2 separate regions of the Homo sapiens genome follow, and region 2 is linked to region 1. A link means that fine-mapping ties the variant in region 1 to the expression of a gene that starts in the linked region. Tissue or cell type: cerebellar hemisphere. Region 1 holds a variant in brackets; the other region holds the start of a gene. All regions are shown on one strand. Distances are from middle to middle.

What was found.
Region 2: CD247 starts here. The variant in region 1 is fine-mapped to the expression of CD247 in cerebellar hemisphere (GTEx, PIP above 0.99). The same link has a PIP of 0.9 or more in cerebral cortex and prefrontal cortex.

Annotation. Positions count from the first base shown.
Region 1 is chr1:167,536,210-167,551,061 of GRCh38, reverse strand. CREG1 (cellular repressor of E1A stimulated genes 1) reads left to right here. Exons shown (of 4, transcript NM_003851.3): 2 at 2,941-3,060; 3 at 4,777-4,961; 4 at 8,761-10,049. The coding sequence ends at 8,764. Among named protein-coding and RNA genes, the nearest start is that of CREG1, 10 kb to the left of the region's middle. RefSeq lists a cis regulatory region at 2,477-2,494 and enhancers at 2,413-2,557, 10,560-11,060. The variant A/G (reference allele first, on the strand shown) is at 5,027.
Region 2 is chr1:167,514,748-167,529,015 of GRCh38, reverse strand. It overlaps CD247 (CD247 molecule), which reads left to right and starts at 10,487. Exons shown (of 8, transcript NM_198053.3): 1 at 10,487-10,608. The coding sequence starts at 10,551. It also overlaps the pseudogene AKR1D1P1. RefSeq lists enhancers at 10,656-11,855, 11,127-12,090.

The DNA.
Region 1 (14,852 bases):
GCTGCAGAGCCAGTGAGTCTGAAGGGAAATCTTGGGGTTTGATTATTTGCACCAAGACCTCTTACTATTAGCCTCCCTTCCATTTTGGCATTCTTTTCTTGTGATGTGCCCCTTTCTGTTCTGGTCACTCTTGGTTTTTTTTCTCTGACCCACTAAAATAAGTATCCCTCAAAGTCAGTTTCCTACTCTTTTGTTCCCTGCAGCGATCCTCAGAAGATTGTATACACTCTCGTTGTATACATTCTCTTCTAGTCCTTACTAGGACTCACTTCCAGATGTGTGTCCATTTCTGACCTCTTCAAAGTTCTCTATATTTCTGCTTGCTGTTCATTTTTGCTTCGTTACTTTGCCACCACTTCAAATTCAACATGTTTAAATCCAGTCCTTCTTCCTCCTGAAACAAGCTGCTTTTGATCTTCTGCATTTCTGTTAGTGGAATTATTGTTTTCTCAGTAAACCCAGTTGGTTCTCACTGCCTCCCCAAATCCCTCAGTTCCCAAGTCCTGACAGTTTTTTGTTGCCTTCTTTACCTCTGTCCTTGCCCCTTCCTCTTCATTCCTGCCACCTCATCCTTAAGCTTATCATCTCATGCCTAAAAGTACTAGAACAGCTCTTACATAGTCTTCCTGTCTGCCCCATCCACCTTGCCTACCCAAATAGATTAACAAAAATACCTGTCACAGCATTGCCCTCTGGCCAGAAACCTTTAACAATACCCAGCTGCCTATAGCTGCGTAAGAGCTACCTGGGATGTTTGTTTAAAATGCATATAGAGGCGGGTGCGGAGGCTCCAGCCTGTAATCCCAGCACTTTGGGAGGTCGAGGTGAGCGGATCACCTGAGGTCAGGAGTTTGAGACCAGCCTGGCCAATATGGTGAAACCCACCTCTACTAAAAATACAAAAATTAACTGGGTATGGTGGTGTACGACCGTAGTCCCAGCTATTTGGGAGGCTGAGTTGAGAGCATCAGTTGAGCCTGGGAGGCAGAGGTTGCAGTGAGCTGAGATCACGCCATTGCACTCCAGCCTGGGTGACAGAGCTTGATTCTGTTTCTAAATAATAAAATGCAGATAGAGGACAGCTTGGTGGCTCATGCCTGTAATCCCAACACTTTGGAAGGCCGAGGTGGGAGGATCACTTGAGTCTAGGATTTTGAGACCAGCCAGGGCAACACAGTGAAACTCCATGTCTACAAAAAATAAAAAAATATTAGCCGGGTGTGGTGATGCACATCTATAGTTCCAGCTACTCAGGAGGATGAGATGGGAGGATCACATGAGCCCTGGAGGTTGAGGCCACAATGAGCCATGATTGTGCCACTGCACTGGGTGGCTGCCTGGGTGACAGAGTGAGACACTGTCTTAAAAAAAATATTGCAGGCCAGGTGCGGTGTCTCACGCCTGTAATCCCAGCACTTTGGGAGGCCGAGGTGGGTGGATCACAAGGTCAGGAGTTCAAGACCAGCTTGGCCAACATGATGAAACCCAGTCTCTACTAAAAATACAAAAATCAGCTGGGCGTGGTGGCACACACCAGTAATCCCAGCTACTCGGGAGGCTGAGGCAAGAGAATCGCTTGAACTTGGGAGTTGGAGGTTGCAGTGAGCTGAGATCGCACCACTGCACTCCAGCCTGGGTGACAGAGCAAGACTCCGTCTCAAAAAAAAAAAACAAAAAAAAATTGCAGTTATTTGGGTTGGGAGTGAAGCCTGTTTCAACATTTTAACCCAAATCAGCATTTTATCAAGCTCTCCAGGCAGGTGGTTCTTAGAAAACAGTGCCTAAGGTTGGCCCACAAATTACAATCTAGACTCCTTAACTTAGGTTGGAGCCCTCTCCACTCCCAACCCCAGGCTCCTCCCGTAGGAAAGCCCTTCTTTCCAGCAAATCAGGTTTCTTGGTACTGTTCATCAAGTCTTAGGCTCACCCAGTTCTGTGTTTTTTGCAGTCAGTGTCTCCTCTCCCTTTAATATGTCCTCCCACCTTCTATCCTGGTTTTGAATATATTATAAAGCTCCTTACAGTTCCTCTATCACTCTGGTCTATGCTGGACATACACATTTGTTTATGTCTGCCTTTTCAACCAGATTATAAACTCACGGAGGGAGAGAGTTTACCTGAGTGTCCCCCTCCCCTTCTTTGGTCTCCTGTGGTGCCTTGCCTAATAGTTTCTAGACAGTGACTATTTGGCTAAATGATTTCAAAGAAATCTCTTTATGACTCTTTGTTTTGATGGGTCAGTGTGAAATGGCAAAATTCTCCACACAAGGCACTTAGAGCTTAAAGAGCTAAATAGTCTAAAATGCGATGTGTGAATTTTGCTATAATCTGTCAACAGTGCCTTTTATGAAGTTGATTTCTGAATAAGAAAGCATTAAGAATTTTACTTGTGTTACTTTTTGAATGTGGGATAAAACTCATTGTTACTAAAGCAGGAATGAACAACTTCTCCAGTTTTGAAATCACATGACAGTTTCTGCTAATGTAAGATAACCAAGTAGCATGATTCAGCTACTTTCTTGCTTAAATCGCGTAGTTAGCCAATTGAGCAACTGTGGTGTTTTTAGCAATGGTTTTGTATAGAGTTTAACCCTTTAAATCTTTCAGTGAAGCCTATAGAACAGCCTTGAATTTGGGTGTCACTATAATTATAATTCTTCTGATGAATATGGAATAAATTCAGGGTTTCAGAAAAAGAATATTGAAATAATTTTTACCAAGTCAGTTCATTTTAAATATGAACCCCCGCACCCCCTTTGGGGAGTGGTCAGGATACTTTCCAAGTATTATTTTCCCCTGAGTGGAAGGTGATGTTTTATGATTCATTGTTTCGTGGAAGACCAGTCAAGCTCTAGGGACATCATGTATGCAACTTTTGAAATTTATTACCTCTCCAGAAACCATATTTCACATGAGAGGATCTTCATTTTCTCTCTATAGGAGAATCCATATGCTACACTGACCATGACTTTGGCACAGACCAACTTCTGCAAGAAACATGGATTTGATCCACAAAGTCCCCTTTGTGTTCACATAATGCTGTCAGGAACTGTGACCAAGGTAAGTAGTTATCCTACAGGAAGGGAGATGGTTTCAGAACACCATCGTATTCACAATGAAAGAATAGATCATTTTTCTTTTGAGACAGAGTCTCACTCTGTCTCCCAGGCTGGAGTGCAGTGGTGTGATCTCGGCTTACTGCAACCTCTGCCTCCTGGGTTCAAGCGAGTCTTGTGCCTCAGCCTCCCTAGTAGCTGGGATTACAGGCACGCACCACCACACCCAGCTAATTTTTGTATTTTTAGTAGAGATGGGGTTTCACCATGTTGGCCAGGCTGGTCTTGAACTCCTGACCTCAAGTGATCCACCCACCTCGACCTCCCAAAGTGCTGAGATTACAGGCGTGAGCCACTATGCCTGGCAGAATAGATCTTTTCAGAATGAAATGCAGTTGATTTGTGATTGCCATGCCCAGTCAGAACATGTTCTATTCTAATAGGTGAAGTAATTCCATGAAAACCAAACGTTTTAATAAGTTGCTTTCATATAGGTGTTAAATAAGATATGACAAAAATGAATGATTTTCTGAAGCCAAGCAGATGTAACAACTATGAAGCTCCTGTATATAAAGTTATTCTTACTAAAGAGCATCTGGTTGACCAAAGCCCTCTACTCTCCATTACATTTTACATTGGTATAATGTTTTTCCATGTCTGGGCTCCTTGTCTCCATATTTTAACAGTGGCTTAAAGCAGAGAAAACATATTAAGTAGGCCAACCAGAGGACTATCCATTACTGAAAACTGGAAGTGAATTTAGTTTGGATCACCTGCTGAAGGGAAGAGGTCAAATACAATCTCAGGAAGAGCAGTGGGCATGGTGTCAGGAGTGCTGATCTGATTACCCAGCCAGCAGATTTGCTTTTTGACCGTGTCAATCATTAATGCCTCAGACAAGTGTTATTTATGGTCTGTAAATTCTTTGTGGATGCATCTCTGTAGTTGAGTGTCCTTCACTGGCAGGAAAAAGATGGAGGAGCAGCACATGCTTTTGAGTTCTGTTATGTGGTTTCTAAACATTTTTATCCTTCAGTACATTCATCTGTATGTTTAACATGTCCATGTTATGGGATAAATATGCTAAACATTACATGTCTTAGGCACCAGTAATGTTACAGTACTTAGTGCTAGTTATTCTAATAGCTCAAAATGCCTTTTTACCAATGAAAGTTGGTATTATACTTACAGTGGTTTCCCACTTCGTGGTATCTGTTATTACCAACAATTGAAATCTTTATTCTCTGCATTCTTTACATTTCCTTTATTTTCTCTTGATTCCTTAAGGTTAAGATCAAGATTTACAAGTAAGTAAACTCTTAGGATTTATAGAATGCTAGAGTCACACATTCTTTTTTTTTTTTGAGATGGAGTCTTGCTCTGTCATGCAGGCTGGAGTGCAGTGGCACGATCTCGGCTCACCGCAAGCTCCGCCTCCCGGGTTCATGCCATTTTCCTGCCTCAGCCTCCTGAGTAGCTGGGACTACAGGTGCCCACCACCACATCTGGCTAATTTTTTTTTTTTTAGTAGAGATGGGGTTTCACCGTGTTAGCCAAGATGGTCTGAGTCTCCTGACCTCGTGATCCGCCCGCCTTGGCCTTCCAAAGTGCTGGGATTACAGGCGTGAACCACTGCACCCGGCCTAATCACACATTCTTAACAAATGAGAAGATAAAGTGTTACTGCCATAAGAATGTTTATTTCATATATGTCCTTTAGGTGAATGAAACAGAAATGGATATTGCAAAGCATTCGTTATTCATTCGACACCCTGAGATGAAAACCTGGCCTTCCAGCCATAATTGGTTCTTTGCTAAGTTGAATATAACCAATATCTGGGTCCTGGACTACTTTGGTGGACCAAAAATCGTGACACCAGAAGAATATTATAATGTCACAGTTCAGTAAGTACTTACACATCTTTCACCTAAGATTGCCGCCCTTACAGCCATCCTCAGCCTTCTAAGGC[A/G]AGGGGGGTTTAACCGTTTCATGTGCCCTGGACACCCTGGGCAGTCTGGTAAAGCCGCTGACCCCTTCTCAGAATAATGTTTTAAACACATAAAATACAGAGGATTAAGAAGAAAATCAACTATAATGAAATACATTTATGAAAATATTTGTAAATGTGTGGTATAATCGTTTTATTAATATATTAAATATAAGATCTAGTAATAAGTCTATTACTTTTTCTTTTTTTTTCAAGACAGAGTCTTACTCTGTCACCCAGGCTGAGTGCAGTGGCACCATCTCAGCTCATTGCAGCCTCCACCTACTGGGTTCAAACGATTCTTATGCCTCAAGCCTCCCAAGCAGCTGGGAATACAGGCATAGACCACCACACCCAGCTGATTTTTTGTATTTTCATAAAGAGGGTGGTGTCGAACTCCTGAGCTCAGGCAGTCTGCCTGCCTCAGCCTCCCAAAGTGCTAGGATTACAGGCATGAGCGACCATGCCTGGCCTTTTCTGTGCTTTTAAAGTAGTGAGGATTGAAGACAATATTTTAAGACATCTGCAACACCTGTGACATGATATGAACGTATCTGTGATTTCTCTATTTCTGTTGGAGACAGTCACAGATAGGCTGTCACCCTGTGGTTTATTCCCTACATTCATTATTGAAGGAAATGATACATTCAGTTAGAGCCTAATGAAAATGAAAAAAAAATTTTTTTGAGCCAAGTTCGCAGACCCCTGAACTCTGTCTACAGGCCTGGACACCAGGTTGAGACTCCATTTTAAGGCTGTGCTTATTGGGCCCTGAACAGAGCCCAGTTATGACCCACGATGGCATTTTCTCATGAGGCTTAGACTCAGGTGCTCCTGGACTGTGAATGCCCTTCATCTGAGTCTGAGCAAGTAACCCCATCCCATCAGCCCCAGTACTACAAATGCCTATGGGGATGTGTGGTTTATCCCACTAAGAAGTGCATGGAAGGGAGGAGGCTGAGATAAAAGAGGCCATGGGAGAAAATAAAGCCCAGGACCTGAAGACAGAAAGGGAAAGGAAAGAAGAGTGTAACTGGAGTCTTTGGAGTTAGCTAAGGGTTCAAATGAGGGAATACAAGGGACTGGTGCTTCTCCCAGGTGACACAGGGAATTCTGGCATATCTGGGGAGGTGATAAGAACAGTAACAATAACAGCTAGTGTCCATTGTTTATTACTGGCTGGGTGCTATACTGGCTACTTTTCATGTATTAACTCATTCAGTTCTCACCACATCCCTTTCTTGCGCAACCTTCCACCGCAACAGGTAGGTGCTGTTTTTCCACATGTGTGAAATGGAAAGCTGATGCACAGAGAACAAACTGGCCTAAACTGTTTGTTCTTGCAGCCAGGAAGTGGTGGTGCTGGGACTCAAACCCAGGCATTCTTGCTCCAGAGCCATCACCTGACTTCTATCCATGATGCTGTACTTCTCCTCTGGCTGCCTCACTGGTAGCTGGCCAGGCTCCTAGCTCAGTGTAATTTATAATGCACTTTCTGCTTGTAATGATTGACTGCTGTTTCAGGAGATTACGGTGATGATAACTAAGGTAGACTTGTAGGTTGTAGGTCATTTGAGGGCTTAAATTCTTAGCATTTATTTAATCTCTGTCTTTTTCAATTGTAGAACAATTCCGTGTTGAACTATTGACTCCCTACCATGATTGGAAATCTCAGTTTTGTTTTGTTTCTAATTTTTTTTAATTCCAAGCAGGGCCTAGGACAGTGTGTGTCATAGAGCAGGTGTTTAGGAATGATTGTCTGGCTCATTACTTGAGACAAACACTCTCACACTCTGTTGGAATAAAGAATCCCACAGTCCTGGCGCTTGTTTTGCTGCTGTGCATGCAGGAGAGGCACGGGCCACTGGTCGTCTTCTGGGCTGGCAAAGCCATCTGACTTCATAGGAATATAGAGGTAGCAATTACAACTTTATTCCCTGGCAACAAATTATCAGGATGACTGTTAAGAAGGGCCTGCTCTTCGAAGTTAAAGTTTACTTTCACAGGACATAATCTCTAAAGCGCAGTTATCTTTATATAAATAACATGCCCAAAGGCAGTGCCTGGTTTAATAACAAAATAAAACTGTTTTCCCATAAGTCTCCACACTGAATAAGTGAGTAAAACAGATACTTTTGAGGTTCCCACTTTATTATGCTGACAAAGGAGCACTTCTCTGCAGCACAGAGATAGAACATTTTTCCCTTGTCCTGAGAGGCGGCCCAAAGGCTAGAGCAGATGTGACTCTTCTGAGGCAGTGCACCAGAACCCGAGGGATGGGCAGGGCCTGAAAGCTGCCCGCTCTGACCGGGTGCCTCTGGCTAGGAATTGTCCATCTCCGAGTCTAGGAGTGCCCCCACTAATCCCACCCGCCAGGTTTGCCACCAGAGCTGTTTAATAGTCCGGGGAGTGTACAGTGATATCTGTGAGGACCAGGGCCCCCATCTTCTTGGAGAACCACCCACAGGGGCCTCACAGGCGTTCTGGAGCTTCCCCACATTGGCAGCCACCTTGCTTGGCTTGCCCAGATCGGTTTTGGAAGGTATTATTCCTCCAAATACCACGAAGCCCTCTGCATCTGAAATCTGTTTCACACAGATGGAGACTGCCACTTGTGAGAGCTGATACGGAGCTTAACTGAATGTGGTTTGCCTCATTGGACTGTTGGGTGAAGCCCCCATGAGCATGTTTGCATGATCAGTGGAAGGCTTAAATGTCTACACGAAGCATTTGCTGGCACCCTGGAATAAGCAGTTCTTTTTTTTTTTTTTGAGATGGAGTCTCACTCTGTTGCTCAGGCTGGAGTGTGGTGGTGCGATCTCAGCTCACTGTAAGCTCTGCCTCCTGGGTTCATGCCATTCTCCTGCCTCAGCCTCCTGAGCAGCTGGGACCACAGGCACCTGCCACCACGCCTGGCTAATTTTTTGTATTTTTAGTAGAGGCAGGGTTTCATCATGTCAGCCAGGATGGTCTCAATCTCCTGACCTCGTGATCTGCCCGCCTCGGCCTCCCAAAATGCTGGGATTATAGGTGTGAGCCACCGCGCCCGCCCAACAAGCAGTTCTTATAAGCATAAGCATTGCTTTTGACCACTGTTAAGTCTGGGCAGCAGCATGTTTGTGCTAAGCCTCATTTTATCTCCTCTGGCGCACATCCGGATATTTCCTAGCAAACACACAGGTAACAAAAGGTCATGGATTACAGACTTGCCCAGTCTTGATACCTAGAGATGGATTCCCTGGTTGGTGGCAGCAGAAAGGGGGAAAGTTCACCTCCCAGCTGTGGTCACTATCACTGGGCAATGGCTAATCACTGCTCTTCTGCCCTGATGTTCAGGACCCCTTCTGTTCTCAACTATTTTTGTCTTTTAAGCCTTCAGATACTCTTAAATGAGATAACAACAGCAGCCACGGCAGTGGCCTGCTTCTTGCTACATCCTAGTAGCGTTTATCAGTGTGTCAGAATCATACTTGGAGAGGAGGGTTATTGCTAAAATGAGGATTCCTAGGCCCCACCCTCAACCTATTGAAACCGAAACTCAGGAGTCTGCATTTTAACAAACCCAAGTGGTTATTTAGTATATTCTAGTGGTTGAAATGAACTGAAAATCTTAATTTAGATCAGAAATTTTATCTAGTCCTTCCCTAGAATGAATTAATTTTTAAGATTTGTTAACCCAGTTTAACAAAATAATTCTTCTCTGTTCCCCTTTCTAGGTGAAGCAGACTGTGGTGAATTTAGCAACACTTATGAAGTTTCTTAAAGTGGCTCATACACACTTAAAAGGCTTAATGTTTCTCTGGAAAGCGTCCCAGAATATTAGCCAGTTTTCTGTCACATGCTGGTTTGTTTGCTTGCTTGTTTACTTGCTTGTTTACCAATAGAGTTGACCTGTTATTGGATTTCCTGGAAGATGTGGTAGCTACTTTTTTCCTATTTTGAAGCCATTTTCGTAGAGAAATATCCTTCACTATAATCAAATAAGTTTTGTCCCATCAATTCCAAAGATGTTTCCAGTGGTGCTCTTGAAGAGGAATGAGTACCAGTTTTAAATTGCCCATTGGCATTTGAAGGTAGTTGAGTATGTGTTCTTTATTCCTAGAAGCCACTGTGCTTGGTAGAGTGCATCACTCACCACAGCTGCCTCCTGAGCTGCCTGAGCCTGGTGCAAAAGGATTGGCCCCCATTATGGTGCTTCTGAATAAATCTTGCCAAGATAGACAAACAATGATGAAACTCAGATGGAGCTTCCTACTCACGTTGATTTATGTCTCACAATCCTGGGTATTGTTAATTCAACATAGGGTGAAACTATTTCTGATAAAGAACTTTTGAAAAACTTTTTATACTCTAAAGTGATACTCAGAACAAAAGAAAGTCATAAAACTCCTGAATTTAATTTCCCCACCTAAGTCGAAACAGTATTATCAAAACACATGTGCACACAGATTATTTTTTGGCTCCAAAACTGGATTGCAAAAGAAAGAGGAGAAGAATATTTTGTGTGTTCCTGGTATTCTTTTATAAGTAAAGTTTACCCAGGCATGGACCAGCTTCAGCCAGGGACAAAATCCCCTCCCAAACCACTCTCCACAGCTTTTTAAAAATACTTCTACTCTTAACAATTACCTAAGGCTTCCTCAACTGCCCCAAATCTCTTAATAGCTTCTAGTGCTGCTACAATCTAAGTCAGGTCACCAGAGGGAAGAGAACATGGCATTAAAAGAATCACATCTTCAGAAGAGAAGACACTAATATTATTACCCATATACATGATTTCAGAAGATGACATAAGATTCCTCTTAAAGAGGAAATGTCAGGAATCAAGCCACTGAATCCTTAAAGAGAAAAGTTGAATATGAGTCATTGTGTCTGAAAACTGCAAAGTGAACTTAACTGAGATCCAGCAAACAGGTTCTGTTTAAGAAAAATAATTTATACTAAATTTAGTAAAATGGACTTCTTATTCAAAGCATCAATAATTAAAAGAATTATTTTAATGAAATGTGTTGGATTCGTTTTCTTAAACATAGACATTAATATTTATTACACTTTGTTTTATTGTCTACTGTCGAAATAGCATGTTCCTAAATCAGTCACTGGCTGTTTCAAAACTTGAAGTGAATAATACCACTCTTTCTAATTGGCAAAAAGCTCATTGTGTCCTAAAATTCTGGGCATGGCCAGATCTAGCCTTTGTCACAGGTTCTGCCTCAGGGATTTGGTTGCCAGTGTACCTTGTGATAGAATTAGGTTGAGGGCAGCTATTTGGTTTTCTCCCTTTACCCACTTAGTGAGTTTTTTCTCCAGCATTTGGAACCACATAAATACATATCGACATTCAGGTAAGATCTAGTTATCATACAGAGTAAAGTCAACCAGTGTTTCACAGCAGGCAGATTCTTTTATAATTGAATGTGCCAGAATATGTCACTGTTAATATTCCAGTTAGCCACTAGGGGGCACTGGACTACTCTTTGTGCAAGTTTGGGTTTCTTACACAGCCAAATCAAGCCCCTAGGAATAATGCTCTGGGTTAGGAGCTGGAGTAAATGCAGCTCAGCAGGGGCAAGAGGAGAAGCAGAGGCCTGATTTGCTGCTGCTGCTGCTGCTGCTGCTGCTGCTGCTGCTAGGTTTTCCTGGGTTTATCATTCCCTCCACACCATGTGCTTCTACATCAGGCTTCTGGTCTCCTTGCACCCCACCTGCTGCAGAAGGAGAACAGATCCCTGGGCTCAAACAGCTAGGAGATGAGTATCTTAGACTGGGGTGGGGAGGGGGAGTCAGCCTTGGTGCAGAGAGCAGGACAGGCCCTGATAGAGAAAGATAAAAGTGTAAAGAGGGGCCGGGCGCGGTGGCTCACACCTGTAATCCCAGCACCTTGGGAGGCTGAGGCAGGTGGATCACGAGATTAGGAGATCGAGACCATCCTGGCTAACACGGTGAAACCCCATCTCTACTAAAAATACAAAAAATTAGCCGGGCGTGGTGGCAGGCGCCTATAGTCCCAGCTACTCGGAAGGCTGAGGCAGGAGAATGGCGTGAACCCGGGAGGCGGAGCTTGCAGTGAGCTGAGACCGCGCCACTGCACTCCAGCCTGGGCGATGGAGCGAGACTCCGTCTCAAAAAAAAAAAAAAAAAAAAAAAAAAAAGTGGAAAGAGGGAGTAGCTCAGGATCCTGAAGCTACAGAGTCCAGACAGCTGCGTTTGGCAGATGCTATCTTGACCATCCTTCTGCACTCAGCTGGTCAAGGCCATTTGTCTTTACCAACCATGGCCAATAATCATAGTTTATTCTGTGTTCTAGTCCAGGTTCAAAGTCCTTGACAGGTATGTGGGGGAGTGGAGAAAAATCTTTATGAAATGTGACGAAGTTCAATGAAATAAATGCATCAGATATTCTGAGGAGGTTGCTAGTGTGATGTTCCCTTCTTAGTAGTATTTAGACTGAAGATCACAAAGTAATTGAAAAGGAGACTACTTTCTTTTAAGGGAGCATGTTTTTCAGTTTTAGTACTGAGGAAATAATGCTCTAATTTGTGTAATGCTGGTTGGTCAGTGTTTCCTAGGGGAATTCCAAACTGTCACTTCAAAACCAAGTGTTCTATAAATATTATTAGAGAAGATAATTATAATTTAATTATAATTCCTTTTGGAATTAAGGGGGGTACAAATCAGTAAAATGTAAATTTTTCAGTTTTTTCTTTAAGATTTATTGTAAGACATTTGTATAGGAAATGTGGAGAATAAAAAGTTTGACATTTATAACCTCACCAACCAGCATGGTTGCTAATATTTTGGGTGTGTTTTCTTGGGAGTGATGTTTAAACATAGTCAAGATCTTGCTGTTTAATGAATGTGTATCATGCTTCTTTCACTTTATCATAAACAACCGTGTTCCTAGAAGCCATTCACGAGGATGGCTGAGAATGGCTGCAGAATATTTCATCAGATCAATATAAGCAGGCCACCAAATAATGGTCTGCATTGGGACTCTGTTGCTAGTGACAAGAAACCTAAGTCAAAGTTGTTTAAACAAAAAGAGTTCATTGATCTTATATTATTCAGAACTTGGCTTTCATTTCCTGGCTCCTCTTTCTGCCGTGTTAGTTTTCATTGCAGCCAGCAATCTTACCACCAAGAGGATGTGTCCTTCCTAGCTGGGCCCTAGCCATTCCCGAATAATCACTGTGTCTGGGAATGGGGTGCCCTCTTTGGCCGAACTTGAGTAGTGTGGCTTCTCCTGGAGTTGCGGGTTCACTCAGCACCATCAGAATCACAGAGACTGGGAGAATGTAGAAGGGGGACTCCTGCAATGAAAAGAGTGCTTATGCGAACTGAAGGAACACTGAGCAGGCAAAAACCAAAGGCTATTAGCATTTTCTCCAGTTTTTGCATATTTAGGTTACTTTCAGTTTTTTCCTCTTAGAAAAGTCTTACACATAAAATATTTTCTACATTTCTGTTTATTTCCTTAGATTCCCAGCAGTGGAATTTCCAAGCCAAAAGCTTTTGGTACATGTTATAAATTGCTTTTAAGAATGTGTATCAATTATAATGTCCAGTGTTTGCTTTAAAACATTCTAGCAAAGAAAAAAGTATAGGGGATTAGATGAGGAGAAACTGGCAAAATGGTAACAGTTGAAGCTAGGTGAGGTGCCTGGAGATTCATTTTGCTATTATTCTCTTTTGTGTATGTCTGAAAATTACAAAGATTTCTAAATTGAATTGAAAAAAAATAAAGAATTGAGGATCTAGAGAGGTTAAGTGACTTTCCCAAGCCCACCCAGTTCTGGTCTCCAGGCTTTAAATCCTGGCCATTTCTTCTACTCCACACTAAATTGGCATGTGGTCATATTGTCTGAGACACAGATTATGCCAGCGTAAGGCTTCCTGACTCTTCTTCACCCCGCAACACACCAAGGCAGGAATGCAGAGCTAATCTATGTTTGTGGGTGGGGAGGGGGCATGAGTAGTGGGTGCTAGGGAGCTAGATAACAAGTTTGGCTTGGTGATTCAGGAGTTCAATAGAGATTTCTTGAAAGGATGTTTTCAGTAAAATTTTGGAAAATACATAATAATGGGGGAGGGGAGAGAATTTATATCAATGAACAGCCCTGCAAGCAGTGTATGAAAGTGCTTACTCTGCGATGGGTTAAAATAGTGTGTTATTTTAATTGGCAATTCTTAAGGTTACTAATAACATTGAACATTAAAATTTATTTTGGTTTATTTTTCCTCATTGAAAACTGTCAATTTATATTCTTTGTCCACTTATGTTTGGGGGATCATTTTAAAAAATTGATCTTGCTGAATTCTGTATATTCAGTCTATGAAATCATTTAGTTAGTAAATTTGTTGCTAATACTCAGTTTTCCTTTTAAGTTATTTTGTTTAAAACCTATAGATTTTCCATTTCTATAGAAGAAATTAACATAATATTTTTCCCTTGACTTCTTTAAGTTTAATTTCCTTTAAACTTGGTATGTTTGTTTCCTTTGAGAAATTTGATAAATGTCAATTCAGATTTTCAAATTGTTATGTTTAATTTTTATACTTTTTAATCCTTTAGAATGCATTTTGTGTATAATATTCTTCACTTTTTTGGATGACAAACCCAAATTATGCTTAGCTTTTGTAGTCTAGATGTGAACCCAAATCTAAGCATAGCTTTCTCAGAAGTGAGGATGTAAGTGAGTTAGGGCCATCGGCCTAGCCTGCTGGACAGTCTGTCTGAGAGACACTCTGTATCCCTTAGCTTGAACTTGAGGGATTGGAATTGGCAAAGAAGCATGGTTCTGATAATATTCTCATAACCTTTGGAGGTTGTCTAACACACACACACACACTCCTTAGCTAGATTCTCAAGTCCCACCACAATAAAACTTCAGCTGGCTCTCCCAACATTATCTGCCATTCCTCAGTGTATCCTATGCCATGACCAGCCAATCTGATCTGGTTATACCCCAAACTTTTCCCTTTGGACTTTTCCACATGCTCCTCCCTTAGCCAGGCATCTCCTACCTCCTCATCTCCCTCACTTTTCAGGAGTAGGTAGTCCTTTGAAGGCCGAGTCTGCATCTGATATATTTATCACTGTAGCCCCAAAACACCAAGTGTCAATATTCCATTACGTGGAGTAACCCCTCAATGAAATTTTAACAAACGTTTTGCTTACAGACTTTGTACTTTAGTGAATATAGTGGAAGATGGAGGTTGGACCTCCAACTTGCTGTGTGACTTAGAATGAAGTGATTTGTTTCAGTGAAGGCACATTTAATCCCAAGCACTTGGCAAATCTCAAGGAGACTTTGCTTGGCACCCCAGACATCAGCCTCCATTAAGGAATGGCATTCCACATTACAGGCTTGGATGGAGACATCTGTCTTGTGGGCACGCTGAGCAACTCTGCCACAAACGTTCCATGAGGAAGCAAGGGATTTCGAAGTGAGTTAATTATCATGTCTTTGATTTTTCAGATTTGGCGGACTATGTCTCATTGTTCTGTTCCCAAAGCCTGATGTATAGACGCTGCTCAAATACGCTTTTGAGCATGGAATGAGGGCAGAGCAGCTTAACCAAGACACAGTCTCCTCTCTCTCTTTACGGCTGCTCTGAGAAGGGGAATTCAGCACATTATATGCATGCCCAGAGTCGGTCAACACAAACTCTCCTATTTGGTTGCCAAGAGTCATCTGTGACCCTGGGATTTATCTTTGTCTTAGTTTGCCCAGGCTGCCAGAACAAAATACCATAGACTGGGTGGCTTAAACTGCAGGTATTTATTTCCCGCAGTTCTAGAGGCTGG
Region 2 (14,268 bases), 22 kb after region 1:
AAAAAAAAAGAGATTATAATCGTGGAGAATAGTTGACTCTTCAAAGCAAAATTGATACTATTGCTAGAAGATGGGGGTCTTGATGCCAGGCCTACAAAAACATCCCTGCATTAATATGTTCTTCCCCTAATCAGTTACAATGGCGAGGAAGACAGAATACTCTAATGGAGCAGGTTTAGTCATGTGACCATCCCTGAGCGCAGACAGGCTAGGGGTTAGCTCCACTTGTACTGCATGGTCTGGCCAGGGTTAATATGGGGGTTGGGGGGAGGAAGGGATGCTGGGTGTAAATATAAGCATATAATGTCTATTATGGCATCCCGTTTACTGAGAATCAGAGCACTTCAGTTGCAGTCTGGACTCTGAAACTAGCTAATTCTATATCTTCAGTAAGTCATGTTACCTTTCTGGGTCTCAATTCTCTCATTTACTAAATAAAGGTTAGATTAATGATTTCCAGTCCCCATCTAACTGGGACAATGGTCTGTGACTCAGTATTTAACACAAAGGTATAAATAACTGATAAGGCTTTATATATCTCTCAAGGGCATTTGCTTCTGAATGGAAGAAAAGTGTTTAGTCAGTGGTGTGCTGGGGCATACAGAATGAACTTTCATGTATAATGTCTGCCCCCACCACAGCCAATTTCAAGTTACCAATGATTTAACAACCAACTGGGAAAATTCCTGAAAATTTAACAGTTGGCTCTCATGTGCTGATATCAGCCAGCTCCCACACACCATTATTATAATTTTAGCCAAAAGAGTGACTCTCTAAGCATGTATTTTTGGGTGGATATTAGTAGGTGAGTGGAGAGGGTGTGTTTTAGGGATCAGAAATCCACTGAAATTACATTCTATATGCAGTCATATCCTGGGCCACACTCAAAGTCAGCCAAATTCAGCTCAGATAAAGACTGGTGCTGGGCGTGGTGGCTCACACCTGTAATCCCAGCGCTTTGGAAGGCTGAGGCAGGTCGATCACTGGAGCTCAAGAGTTCAAGACCAGCCCAGGCAACATGGTGAAACCATGTCTTTACAAAAAATACAGCAGAAAAAGTTAGCTGGGTGTTGCAGTACACACCTGTGATCCTAGCTACTCAGGAAGCTGAGGTGGAAGGATCGTTTGAGCCCAGGAGGTCGAGGCTGCAGTGAGCTGTGATCATGCCACTGCACTCCAGCCTGGGGTGACAGAGTAAGACCCTGTCTCAAAAAAAAAAAAAAAAAAAAAAAAAAAAAGGACCAGCAGTTACTGATATGTCAGTTTCCTCAGCCTCTACTCCCAGCCGGTGGGGGCTCCTTTAGGCTCTTTAGGCTCTGCCCTCTCCTCCAGCTTTGGTCAGACATGAAAGAGTCATGGAGCCCAAGGAGTCCATCAGAGCCATAAGATGTGGATCTGTGTGCAGGTGGTGGTGGGAGGGGGCCATGCTTGGCCCAAATGTAGCATCTTAGAAGGCAGATTCTACCTGGGATTGTCACTAAAGGGATGCTTGGCCCTTTCTGCAAACCCATTCCCCTCATTCCCCTCTCGATAACAGTAGTTGGGGTCATGCCCCCTCATTCCTTCAGTAAATTTTAACGGAGCACCTTTTATGTTCCAGGCACTGCATTCAGTTCTGGCCATTCAAATTGCCTAAGACATGGTCTCTAACCCCGGGGACTGAACTTCCCAGAGAGCATTTAAATTTTGTTTCCTGCTGCTCTCTACCCCATCTGGTTTTCGGGTCAGGAATGGTCTGGTCTCTCTCTCTCTCTCTTTCTTTCTCTCTCTCTCTCTCTCAAATTAAATACCAACTATGTACTGGACACTAAAGATTACAAAATGAATAAAACTCCGTCCATGCTCTTGAAGAGCTTGGATTATCATTGTGTGAACATCTGTGTAAACAAATAACCAAGGCAAAAAGTGACAAGTGTTTTTTAACACAGCACTAAACAATATGCGATGGACATAGCTAATAGGTTTAGTAGGTGTGAGCCAGGCTTCACAGTGAAGGGATATTTACACCTTGTCCGAGACCAAGCTCCTGGGTTGGGGAAAGGAGAGAAGGGCCTTCAGGCAAAAGGATTCCTGTGAGCCAAGGCTTGCGGTCACAAAAGGAGGGGCTCATACACAGGCTATGACTGGGGAAACCTCGGGTTGAGGCTGAAGAGACAAGGCTCCACCGAGGTGTTTGGCTGGGATCCTGCCAGCAGAAATGCACTTTGTGAGGGAATAGCCTGTGTGGGCCTCCAGCTGCTTGCCAGCCCTGGACCAGTCAGCTGAAGGGAGGCACAGGGCCTGGGTCAACATGCTGGGGTCTCAAGGGCTAGGGAAGTGCTTCCCCTCACAGGGGTCTTGGGAGAGGCTGTCTCTGGACACCCCAAGGGACAGAGACCAATCCTCTTTTTTGTGCTGTTTTCTCTGATGATCAGGAGCCAGGGAATTGCGAGGCTCAGTGCCGAGTCCCTGTTGCCTAGAAGGAGCTGTTGTAGAGAAAGAACCCCAGGGAAATCTGAATCCTGGGAGGGCCCCTTGGGAGCAAGTGGTTGTGGGAAGAGACCCAGCTCACCTGAAGCACGTTGGCGCCTCAGAACAACCTCTCCTCTAGGTGCAGACAAAGCTTTCCCACTAAATTCTGATGAATCGACCCAAAGAGCAAAAAGGGGTATTTATTGGCTCCTGTGACTGACAAGGGGGCAAAATGGGAACCATCCTTCTCTTCCTGTCTCTGGGCTCTGCTTCCCTCTTGTTGGCCTCATCCCGTCAGGCTCTCTCCCGGTGGGAAATAGACGGCCTCCACTGCTGCAGGCTGCACTACCCCACGGTCACCATTCTCTACGGGAAAATGGTGCCCCTTTCCCTGGAGTTCCAGCAAGAATCTTGAAAATGGCTCTCATGGGCCCTCCCTGAGCCGGTCTTTGTAGACAGAAGGATATGATGCCTGATTGGCTGTCACAGGGTCCATGCCCACACCGGGAGCCAGCCAGCGGCATACATCCCACTCCGTTGAGGGAATATGCGCTCCCCTCCAAGGGAAACGAGGTTGCTTCCAAAAAAGGGAGGGGAAAGATGCTGGACAAGTTAAAATAATTACTTCACCAGCATTACTTATTTGGAGAATTATGAGAATTTATTTAGCACCAGCATCTTCCTCTTACCACATGGCTGCTTATATTCTGCTTGGCCCTACACTTTAAATTGTTCCTGCTTGTAGCTGTAGCCATTTGGCTTCCATCAGTTCAGTCCCAGTCCTGAGCCCCAGTCCCTTCCCCCATACCTTGTCTTTACATTTTCTTTACGCTACCCAATTTTCCAGTCAGCCCCTCAATGGCAGGGGCCCTTCTCTGTAATGACAATGACAACTTTTCCAGCTAAAATCTCCATTCACCAGCTTCTGGGTTTCCCTTACTGTGCTCTTCCTGAGAGGAAGTTGGGGCATCCTCCTACATAGTATTGGACTTCCTGCCATCCTGAATGTTACCAGCCACCCTCCTACTCATTCATCCATCTAGCCACTCACTCACTGAGTCGCCCAACCATCCATCCATCCAACCATGCATGCATGCATCTATCCATCTATCCATCTACCCACCCACCAAAATATATCAGGAAGCAGGGATTCAATCATGAGGAAGAGCCAGAGCTTCCACCATGAGAAACTCACAGCTGCAGGTCATCATGTTCTATCCAGCTTCCTCTCAGCTCCAGCTCTGGGCCTTGCCTGTGTGCCCCTCTGCAAAGCGTGAGCCTCGTTCTAGTTGCCAACCCCATCCCACTGCACACACCAGGGCAAGGCTGGCTGTCGTGGACAGTCATTGTTCTATATATGCCCAGAATCCTTTCCCCTCATTTCTTCTATTACGAATGATTCTGCTAAGGCTGTAAACCAGAGTTTTCCAGCTCCAATCTCGTCTTGACCCCCTGGAAGCACTGGTTTATCCAAAAAGTGGGCATATGGCCCAAGGTGGGCCAATTAGGGCAATTCCTGAGATTGATATGGGGATATTGAGTATTTTGTTATCATTTGGTATGTCACAATCCTCCCAAACTCAGTGGCTTAGAACGACAACCGTTTTAGTTCATGATTCTGTCGGCCAGCAACTTAGGCTGGACTCAGGCAGTGCTTTGTCCGGTCTCATCTGGTGTCACCCACGTGGCTGCAGTCCTCTGTTGGTTCAGCTGGGTCTGGATGATGTAAGAGAGCCTTACTTGTCTGGAAGTCAGCGCTGGCTGTCAGCTGTGCCACGTGTCTCCAGCGGGTTAATACAGGCTTCTTAGTGTGGAGACTGGATTCCCAAAGCGATAAGAAATATGGCAAGTTCCAATGTGCAAATGCTATATAAGTCTTTGAGTTTTTTAAGATGAGAGAAATAACATGCTTGTATACAGATAGGAATGATCCAATTTAGAGGAAAATACTGACATGCAGGAGAGAAAAAAGAGAATATCTGGGGCAATTTCCTTGGGAAGCAAAGGAAGACGGAACCCAGTGGAGAAGCTGATAGCAATCTGATATGTATTCATTGTAATTTTAATTTCGATTTTTTCCTACTATGAGTGATTTTGGTAATCTTTCATTCATTTGACAGCTATGTGTTACTTTTTTTTCCCATGAACTCTCTGTTCAAGTCCTTTTCTCATTTTTTTAACGTTGTTTTAGACTCCCGTCAGCTTGAACATTTCACGAGGGCAAGGATTTTGTCTATTTAACTCCCAGTTATATCTTCAGTGTATAGTACCATGCTTGGCACCTGGTGGACACTTGAAAATTATTTGCTAAAACTGAATAATGTTTAGGTGCTCTTTATGTATTAAGGAACTAAGCCCTTTGTCACAGTGCTGCAAGTACCTTTCTTAGTTTGTGGTTTGAAATCTGTTACAACAGATTAATTCAGATTTTGTAGAATTTCCTGTAAGTAGAATCTTTCAATATGTACTCTTTTTGCCTGGCCTCTTTCACTCAGTATATTGATTTTGAGATTCAGCCATGTTGTGTGCACTAGCAGTTTATTTCTTTTTATTGTTCAGTATTATTTCATTGAATGGATATACCATAATTAGTTTATCCATTCATTTGTTGATAAATATTTGGGTAGTTTTCCAGTAGTTTATTACAAATAAAGCTGCCATGAGTGTTGATGTACAAATCTTTATATGGACATATATATATATATATATATTTTTTTTTTTCTCTTGGTTAGATACATGAGTGCAATGGCTGGATCATATGGTGAGTGTATGTTTAACTTTCTAAAGAAACCGCCAGATCTTTCAGAAATTGTTGTACCATTTTACATTTCCCCCATCCGCGTATGAGAGTTTCAGTTCTTTCATATCCTGGGCAACACTTGATAACGACCAGTTATTTAATTTTAGCCATACTAACAGGTATGTAGTAGTATCTCATTGTGGTTTTAATTTGTTTTTCTTTAATTACTAATGATGTTTAGCATCTTTTCACTTGCTTATTGGCCATTCATTTATCTTCTTTTGGGAATTGTCTATTCAAACTTTGTGCCCATTTTCTTATTGAGTTGATTACTTTACTATTGAGTTAAAATAGTTCTTTACATATTCTGGATATAAGTCCTCTGTCTGATGTATGTGTTTGGACATAATTTCTCCTAGTCTATGGCTTCTTTTTCATTTTCCTACTGCTGTCTTTCAATGAACAAAGCAAAAACTTTTAATTTTGATAAAGTCCAGTTTACCAATTTTTTCTTTTATGGTTTTTACTTTTTGTGTTCTATCACAAATATTTTTCTCCTATGTTTTATTCCAGAAATTTTATAGTTTTGGGTTTTACATTTAGGTCTATGAACCATTTTAGATAATTTTTGTGTATGGTATGAACCGAGGGTCAATTTTTTTTCCATGTGGATATCCAGTTGTTCTACCACCATTTGTTGAAAAGACTACCATTTCCTGCTGAATTTTTCTTGTACCTTTATTGAAAACCAATTGACCATATATGTTTAAGTCTATAGTACCCTAAGTACTGTATGATAATTACACCCCTTTTATTGTTTGATATCTGGCAGGGTTATTTCACTCTCTTTACTCTTCTTTGCAAGAATTTTCCTAACTATTCTTGTGTTTGTTTTAGCATTATTTTTGTATTGAGATATAATTCATATAACATAAAATGTGTCATTTTAAAGTGCATACTTCAATGGTTTTTAGTATATTCACTCTGTTGCACACCATCACCACTGTCCAATTCTAGAACATGTTCATCATCTCAAAGGAACCCTCATAGCTATTGACAGTCCCAATTCCCCACTCTCCCCATCCCCTGGCAACTACTAACCTGCTTTCTATCTCTATGAATTTGTTTATTCTGGACATTTTATATAAATGGAATCATACACTATGTAACCTTTTGTGCCTGGCTTCTTCCGCTTAGCATAATGTTTTCAAGGGTCATCCCAGTTGCAGCATGTAACAGTGCTTCATTCTTTTTGATGGCTGAGTCATATTTCATTGTTTGGATACGGCGCATTTGCTTATCCATTCCTAGTTGTGGCCATTCGAATTGTTTCCAGTTTAGGGCCACTGTGAATAATGCTGCTATGAACATTCCTTTACAAGTTTTTGTGTGAGCCTAGGTTTCCGATTCTCTTGGGTATATATCTAGGAATAGAATTGCTGGGTCACATGATACTATGTTTAACTTTTTGAGGAACTGCCAAATTATTTTTCACAAGGGCTTCACCATTTATATAACCCACAAAAATGTATGAGAATTCCAGTTTCTCCACATCCTTATCAACACTTGTATTGTCTGTTTTCTTATTTTAGCTATCCTAGTGGGTGAGAAGTGGTATCTCACTGTCGTTTTGATTTGTATTTCCCTAATGACTAATGATGTTGTACATCTTTTCATGTGCTAATTGGCCATTTGTATGTCTTCTTTGGAGAAATGTCTATTTACATCTTTGGCCAATTTTTAATTGGGTTATGTTTTTTATTGTTGAGTCATAGGGGTTATTTATATATTCTGAATCCTAGACCCTTATCAGTATATTTACAAATGTTTTCTTTCATTCTGTGGGTTGGGTTGTCTTTTCACTTTCTTCGTTCTTTCTTTTGTCTTTCTTTGTCATCATATTTCATGATTTCTTGTGAACAAAGTATTGTCTAGAGGACAAGCATTGTAAGTATTAACATCGGAATCAGTGAAAACAATCAGTATAGATCAAGTTTTTAAGTGATACTTTCTCAGAAATGTATGTGTACAGGTCATTGAAGATTATCTATAAGCAATTGGTCTTGGAAAAGCATAATTTTTGAAGAACTCTCTTGCCCTGTGAGAGTGATCTAATATGAATGAATAAAATATATTTCTGTAGTTGAACTGAAAATAGGTACATCTCTGTTGTTGAATTCTAATAATTTTATTCTCTTTAAAAATTTACATAGAGTACAATTACCAGTGTTCTTTTGAACGTGCTATTTTCTCAAAATTCACATAGCTATCCCAATAACACTCTTAAAGACTTAAGCATAGTACTTTTATAAAGCCTCTTCTTTCAATATGTCTCCTAAAGTCCCCTTATAAAATGTCTTGTTTTAAAATAGCCGTCTTTGGAATACTTTATGATGCAGAGTTTTATTTATGTATGTTGGTTGTTTCAAGCCACTTCACGTAATGGTGATTCGATGATCAATGTGGCAAGAGTGAATATAAGACAATGTAAGTATGGACCACTAGTTATGTTGAAACTCAGACCCTCTGAGGATGCAAAAGAGAACCAGCAAGTATGCATCCTTCAAGCTGAGTAAAAGCTAAACAAACATACATCGGATAGAAACAAACAACAATAAAATCCTTATGGCTTTGTTGATCACTGTGGTGTTTAATTGACTCTATTTTAAGACTTTTCTACACTTAGCCCTCTCTCCCTACTCAAGGTGCAGCAAATCACTTTTTTGTTAATAATGCATGTCTGGATCTTATCTTGGCTGTGTCTGTATTGCAGTCAATGGTTCAAGTCCTCAAGGCCACTGCCAGCACCCTGGCACATGGGGGCCCTCTGCTGTCTTTGTTGTCCTGTTGACTGCTAAAGAACTCAGGCTAACAATGTTACTACCCACATTCATGAGTTACTTGTTGCTGGTTGTCATCTGTTGCCTTTCAAGTCTTTTCTGGAATCTAATTGTTTTTTGTTTGTTTGTTTGTTTTGTTTTGTTTTTGGTCTGGAACCCAGAAGACATTTATCTAATAAAATATTAGGTGATAATTTCCTAAGAATTTCAACAGATTTAAACATTTTGTCTTTAACATGGGTGAGTTAAAATCACTTACACTATACAAAAGTTAAGCATGTTTCCATCACCACTTTTCAGATAATAAAACCTCTTTCATTTCCGTGTCCATGGGGAACTATGCACCCTAAGGTCCTCCACACGTGGGAGGGGAGAATCTGTTCAGGAACTCTCTGAAGTCAGTATTCATCAAGAAATGGGTATTTGGGATGATCACACCACATGAGCATTTCTATGAAGCGGACATTTTCACTCCAGGCTTCAATGTCCTTGATTCAGTGAGAGAAAAGTCAAAGGCCTGAAGGTTTTCCTTGATCTTTTCAGGATTAAAGCTTTTAGGAATGACAACCACCCCTTGCTGGATGTTGAAACGCAAAATAACTTGAGCTGTGATCTTATTGCACCTTTTTAGAAGTGCATCCTTTAACGAAGGCAGAGAAGACATATTTGTCCAGGTTGGATTCCTAGTGGTCCCCAAAGGGCTATATGCAATCATGACAATGTCATGTTGTTGGCGAAATTTCAAAAGTTTTGGTTGGGTGTAATATGGGTGGCACTCAACCTCGTTGCTGACTGGCTTGGGTTTGAGTCCTGGGTTGTTCTGGATGAGCTCCAGCTGGCCTGCTGTTAAAACTGGATACTCCGAGGGATTTCACCAAGCCAGCATCTTTACAAGCTTCCGAAGTCTCCCAAGTGGCACACAGATTTGACTTGTGATATAACCATTTGCCATTCTCACCTATAGGGTAGATTTTGTCTTCTGGCTTAGCGGCCATGGGTATTTCAGTGATGTAAAGATCCACACAATCTAGCTGGAGGACCTTGAGCATCCTCTCTAGGCTCGGGCAGACCAGCTCTGGGTTGTGATTTGTAGCCCACAGTTTTCCACAGTAGAAGATATCCTTCCTCTGCACCTTTCCTTCTGCTATTTTCCCCCTGATGGCCTCCCCAGCTGTGTCTTCATTTTGGTATATGTAGGCTTCATCAGTGTGTCAGCACCCCAGACCAATGACAACCTTCACTGATGAAGACTCAGACTAAATGTAGAGACAGACTACTTGGGCTGTAGTGACATCTCTACCTACCACCTACTTGCTGTGTGGCCTTGAGTAAGTCATCGGCCCCCTTAGGGGTCAATTTAGGCTCTGAGTAGGTACCAAGTCTGATGATGGGAATGCTGTTTCCATCACTTAGAGGTATGCGGTGATTTGCAGGACTCACTTTCTTCATAGTGTCCTTTGATGCACAAAAACTTTTAATTGTGATGAAGTCCAATTTATCAATTTTATGTTGGATTGCTGTGACTTTGGATTATTGGCTATTCTTGTACATTAATTTTTTTCATATCAATTTTGGAATCAGCTTAACTTGTTCTAAAACTTTTTGTTGGTATTTTCAATGAAATAGATTGATTAATTAAGAGAGAATGGTGGTCTCCTTAAAAGAGAGCTTCCTATCAAAGAAGGGTATGCCTTTCCATTTACCCAAGTCCTTTCGGCGTTCTTCAGCAATGTTTTAAAGTTTGTTTCATATAGATATATTACAATTTTTAGACGAAGTTTATGTCTAGGTTTTAATGTTTTATTATTGTAAATTACTCTGGTGTTTAAATGTTGACAACTAACACAAGTGTTTAAAATACTATGTGAGCTACAGTATTTCACACAATGATCCAAATTCAGGCCAAGTTCAGATCTGCAACCTCAGATCTACTCCAGCTCTTTGCTTTATAGATAAGGAAGCTGAAGTCTAGAGATGTTGAGTGACTGACTCAACGCCACACAGCAAGTAGGTGGTAGGCAGAGATGTCACTAAAGCCCAAGGAATCTGTCTCTACATTTGTCCTGGACTCTAATCCAGGGTTCTGTCATTTTGCCAGCCACCATAAAATATTTGACAGTCTAGGAAAACAGCAAATGTTCTTACATCCATCGAGAACTTGTATTTGCCTAGAGATGGACTTTACCAATCAAGATAGGAATTAGATAAGAATTATTTTTTTTAAAAAAAGGAGCATTAAAACAATGGTCAAATGAGAGAAAAAGCAAAATTCAGACAGACAGATACATACACACACCCCAAACCCTCAAACCTCCAGGGCTTCCTGCCTGTGAACCGAAAGGGGGAGTGCGAATTTCTTGGCCCTGTCGGCAGGTGCTTTCTCAAAGGCCCCACAGTCCTCCACTTCCTGGGGAGGTAGCTGCAGAATAAAACCAGCAGAGACTCCTTTTCTCCTAACCGTCCCGGCCACCGCTGCCTCAGCCTCTGCCTCCCAGCCTCTTTCTGAGGGAAAGGACAAGATGAAGTGGAAGGCGCTTTTCACCGCGGCCATCCTGCAGGCACAGTTGCCGATTACAGGTAGGGCCGACGTGTCGACGGCAGGGAACTTCTAGAAACTCTTTGTGTATGTGTAGGGGAGTGGGTGTGGGTAGTGGAGGGTGGTGAGGGGCTGGGGTCTCCTTCAAATCCTGCCCTCCTCAAATCAATGGGCAAGTGAGCAGTGAGGGGTCCGGCCCGGTGCTGGCATCTGCTCCGTCACAGCCGAGTTGGGCATCAGTTCAGAGCCAGCTGCTAGAATACACAGCTCCTCCAGGTACAGATTTTTCGAGTGATAAGAGAGGAAGGAAGAAGGAAGCAAGAGAGCAACCGAGGCAGGCCCAGGGTAGAGAAACGGAGAGGGAGTGTTTCACAGAAGCTGGACAGGATCGGAAAATGTCAGCCAGGCCATGTTTCGTGCTGCGACGTTCTAGTCCCTTCAGCTTCTTTCACCCTCTGGCTGGCTCCGTCACTCAGCCCCTTTCTTTCTTCCTTTGCCAACAAAGAAGATTTTGTTGGTCAGTCAAGGTCATGGCCTGAAACACTCCAATGGGCCCGGGAGTAAGTGGGGTAACCAAGGAGGAGAGGGGCACAGGCAGGAAGCACCGGGTGGCAGCCTCCACAGCGCCTTCGCCACCTCATGGCCAAGCGTCCGTGTCTAGGCTCAGCCTTGTCATGGCTGTCCCCACACCCACGCCTGGGACTGCCGGGTGACGCACCATCCCAGGCTCCGTGACTCACCCCAGCCTGCCCCTTAGGCGGCCATCTAGCCCAGCCAGAGGGCCCGGCATTGACAGAACACGGGGCAGATGAGACGATGTGCCTGGTTAAGTCACCACCACGAGCAGCGCCCAGCCAACAAGAGTGCTTGCTCCTCACCTCATTCCCGATCGTGGGAGCCCAGCTTTGCTGCAAGCCTTTAGCTTCCACCATGTTTTCTAGCCCAGGTAATGAGGAAGAAAACCAGTGAAAAGAGGACAGGACAAACTGCTCAGGGGGATCAGCCTCGTGGCATCTTCCTGAGAAGTGGGGCAGGCTGAATTTCAATCTAAAGAAACAGGGAAGGTGAAGCAAGCAAATGTCCTCGGCCCACCTGATCGCTCCTGGTAACTCACCTGGGTGTGGGAATTTGTTTAGGGGCCCTGTTGGGAGGGCAGGAGAGGCCATGGGCACTTCTGCTCCCACCAGGGAGCCAGGCACAGCCCGGGCCAGCGCCTCGGGGGATTCTGAGGCCCGTGCAGCTGCAGGGGTTTCTGTCAGGTCACAGCTGTTTTCTCAGAAAAGCCTTGTGGGGTCTAAGTCACACACACAGTGTGGCAGAGTGAGGGTGCCTGAGCTTGCTCAGAGCAGCCCATCCTTGTGTGCTGGGGACAAGGGGACCCAGAACGCTGGAATTTAGTGACTTCAGGGGAGACAGCCAGGGGCAATAGCTCCAGCCTCTGAGCTTCAGGCTTGAGACACCACACCAGGGAGCTCATATAACCTTTCAGGGTCTTTACCTGCAGTTTCCTCACTGGTCCATTTGTGTTCGGCTTGGAGAGACCAAGGTAGGGGCAAAGTGAAGTTAGAAAGAAAAATGAAAGATTGTTGGGTGGCGGTGGCTGCCAAGCGTGGTAAACAGAACCCCACCCAGCAGACAAGATGGGGGCCGTGCCTCATTTCCACAAATAGGGGGCAGGAGGAGAAAACTGCACATTGGCTGGATTTTTTGCTTCTCAGTGCCACTTACTTTGCCTCTATGGAGACTGATATTTTAGCTATTTTAGATAAAGCTAATAGACAAAAGTGTTTCAAAATATCCTAGCCCAGAAACGAGGTACGGTAAGGCAAAGCGCGACTCAGAGAGGCCTTGACACCGAGGGCTGCGATGGTGCTTTTGCTGCCTGAGGGGACACCTCCACAGTCTCCCCGGAGGAAAGGCCGCACATAGAATTTCAGTCAGGTCTTCTCTCTTTTCTTGCTCAGTTAAGTGACCCATTGCATACATCCCTTTTAAAATGTCTACTTTTTACTAAGCTGTTGCATTTGCATTTCTTTGGAAATGCCCAGATTATTAGGATCAAAGCAAATGATGACCTGGTCTGTCCACATGAGGAGGCCTCCCTGAGAGAGAATCTACCAAGACAGTCACCAGGGCTTGAGGCCAGAAGATCCTAAGATGGCGTGCCTAGTGGCATGGGCACACTTGTGCCTGCAGAGCCCTCAGTGCCTCTAACTCCCTACTCTGCAGTAGCCAAGAATGCACCCAGCGGTCAGTGTGGTGTTTGTCTTTTATCAGTGAGGAGATGGAGCTCTGACATGCAGCCTTGGGGAATGCAAAGCTTCCAGGCTTGTGAGTGGCTCTGCTTTTAGGAAGGTGGCTGGACGTGGTAGAAAGAGCCAGGCTAATTTCAGGTGGTGTCCCAGTGCTGCCGCTTCCTAGCTGTGCAACCTTAGGCAAGTTACTTAACCTCTCTGGGCCTCAGTTTTCTCACCTCTAAAGAAAGACTTGTAATACCTTCTTTGCAGAGATGTGACAATGAGAAGTAATGTAATGTGTCCAATACATAGTAGACAGCCAATAAGTAAACATTGTATTTACTATTACTATTATTACATCTCGGACTGTCTTCTTGTTCTCAAAACAGGAGATGGAAACCCATGGCTGGGATTCTTCATTTGCTTTCAATATGTTATAAAGCAGCAGTGGGCATTTTCTCCATCTGTTGCAATCCAACTCATCCCTCTTCTGATTTCTGGGCACACCCATACCAGCACAGAAACATAACAATGATTGCAGAGGTAGGCCCGATAGTGAAAAAGCAGCAAAGCTCTGGCTGGTCATAGGATGACTGTTACATCCACCATTTTCATTTTTTAAAGATACTTACTCTGTAGGGGAATATTCTCCCGAAGTAAAAACATGTCTGAAAAAATATATGCAAGATGGGGGCTGTGCCCCATTTCCACAAATAGGGGGCAGGGGGATTGGCTGGATTTTTTTACTTCTCAGTGCCACTTACTTTGCCTCTGTGGAGACTGACATTTTAGCTATCTTAGATAAGGCTCATAGACAAAAGTTTTTCAAAGTATTACTTTGAAAGGAATCAGAAACAAAATCCACCCAGTCATCACTGGTCCGGGTGGCCACCTAGATTCTGAAGCCAAAGGGCTATTGTGGGTGCACAGCGACTGAGTATCTAAATGCAAACTTCTTGAACACTAAATCTTTGCTAAAATTGCTGGGAGGTGAATGTGAGGCAAGCTTTTAAGTGATACCAGTACAAATTTTTCATCAATGGCATTTTCACCATCAGATTGTTTCGCCCTCCAATCGCCTAGCTCTGCTCATCCAAATGAGCTATTTCATTTTTCAATTTTAGCGTTTCTCAGGCTTACTAGCCTAGAGATCACATCTGCTTCTGCTAAGCATCCCCCAGAAACGGTCCTGGGGAGCTCTGGCTTAGGTGAATAACCACTGCTGTATTTAATTTTAAATTCTTTGTATTTTTGCTTTTGTTCTTTAAAAAAATACATGTAATTATTGTTGGATATATACTTTTCCAGTCAAAAGTTACCCAGCATTGTGTCTTGTGCTTTACTTAGAAGGGTCCAGTTGCCCTGAGGGAACTCTCTTAGATTAGAGTTGTCCAAACACGCACTTTGGGAATCGTTTCTCCCAAGCCTTATTTATCTAAGGCTTAGGACCTTATATAGGTCAGA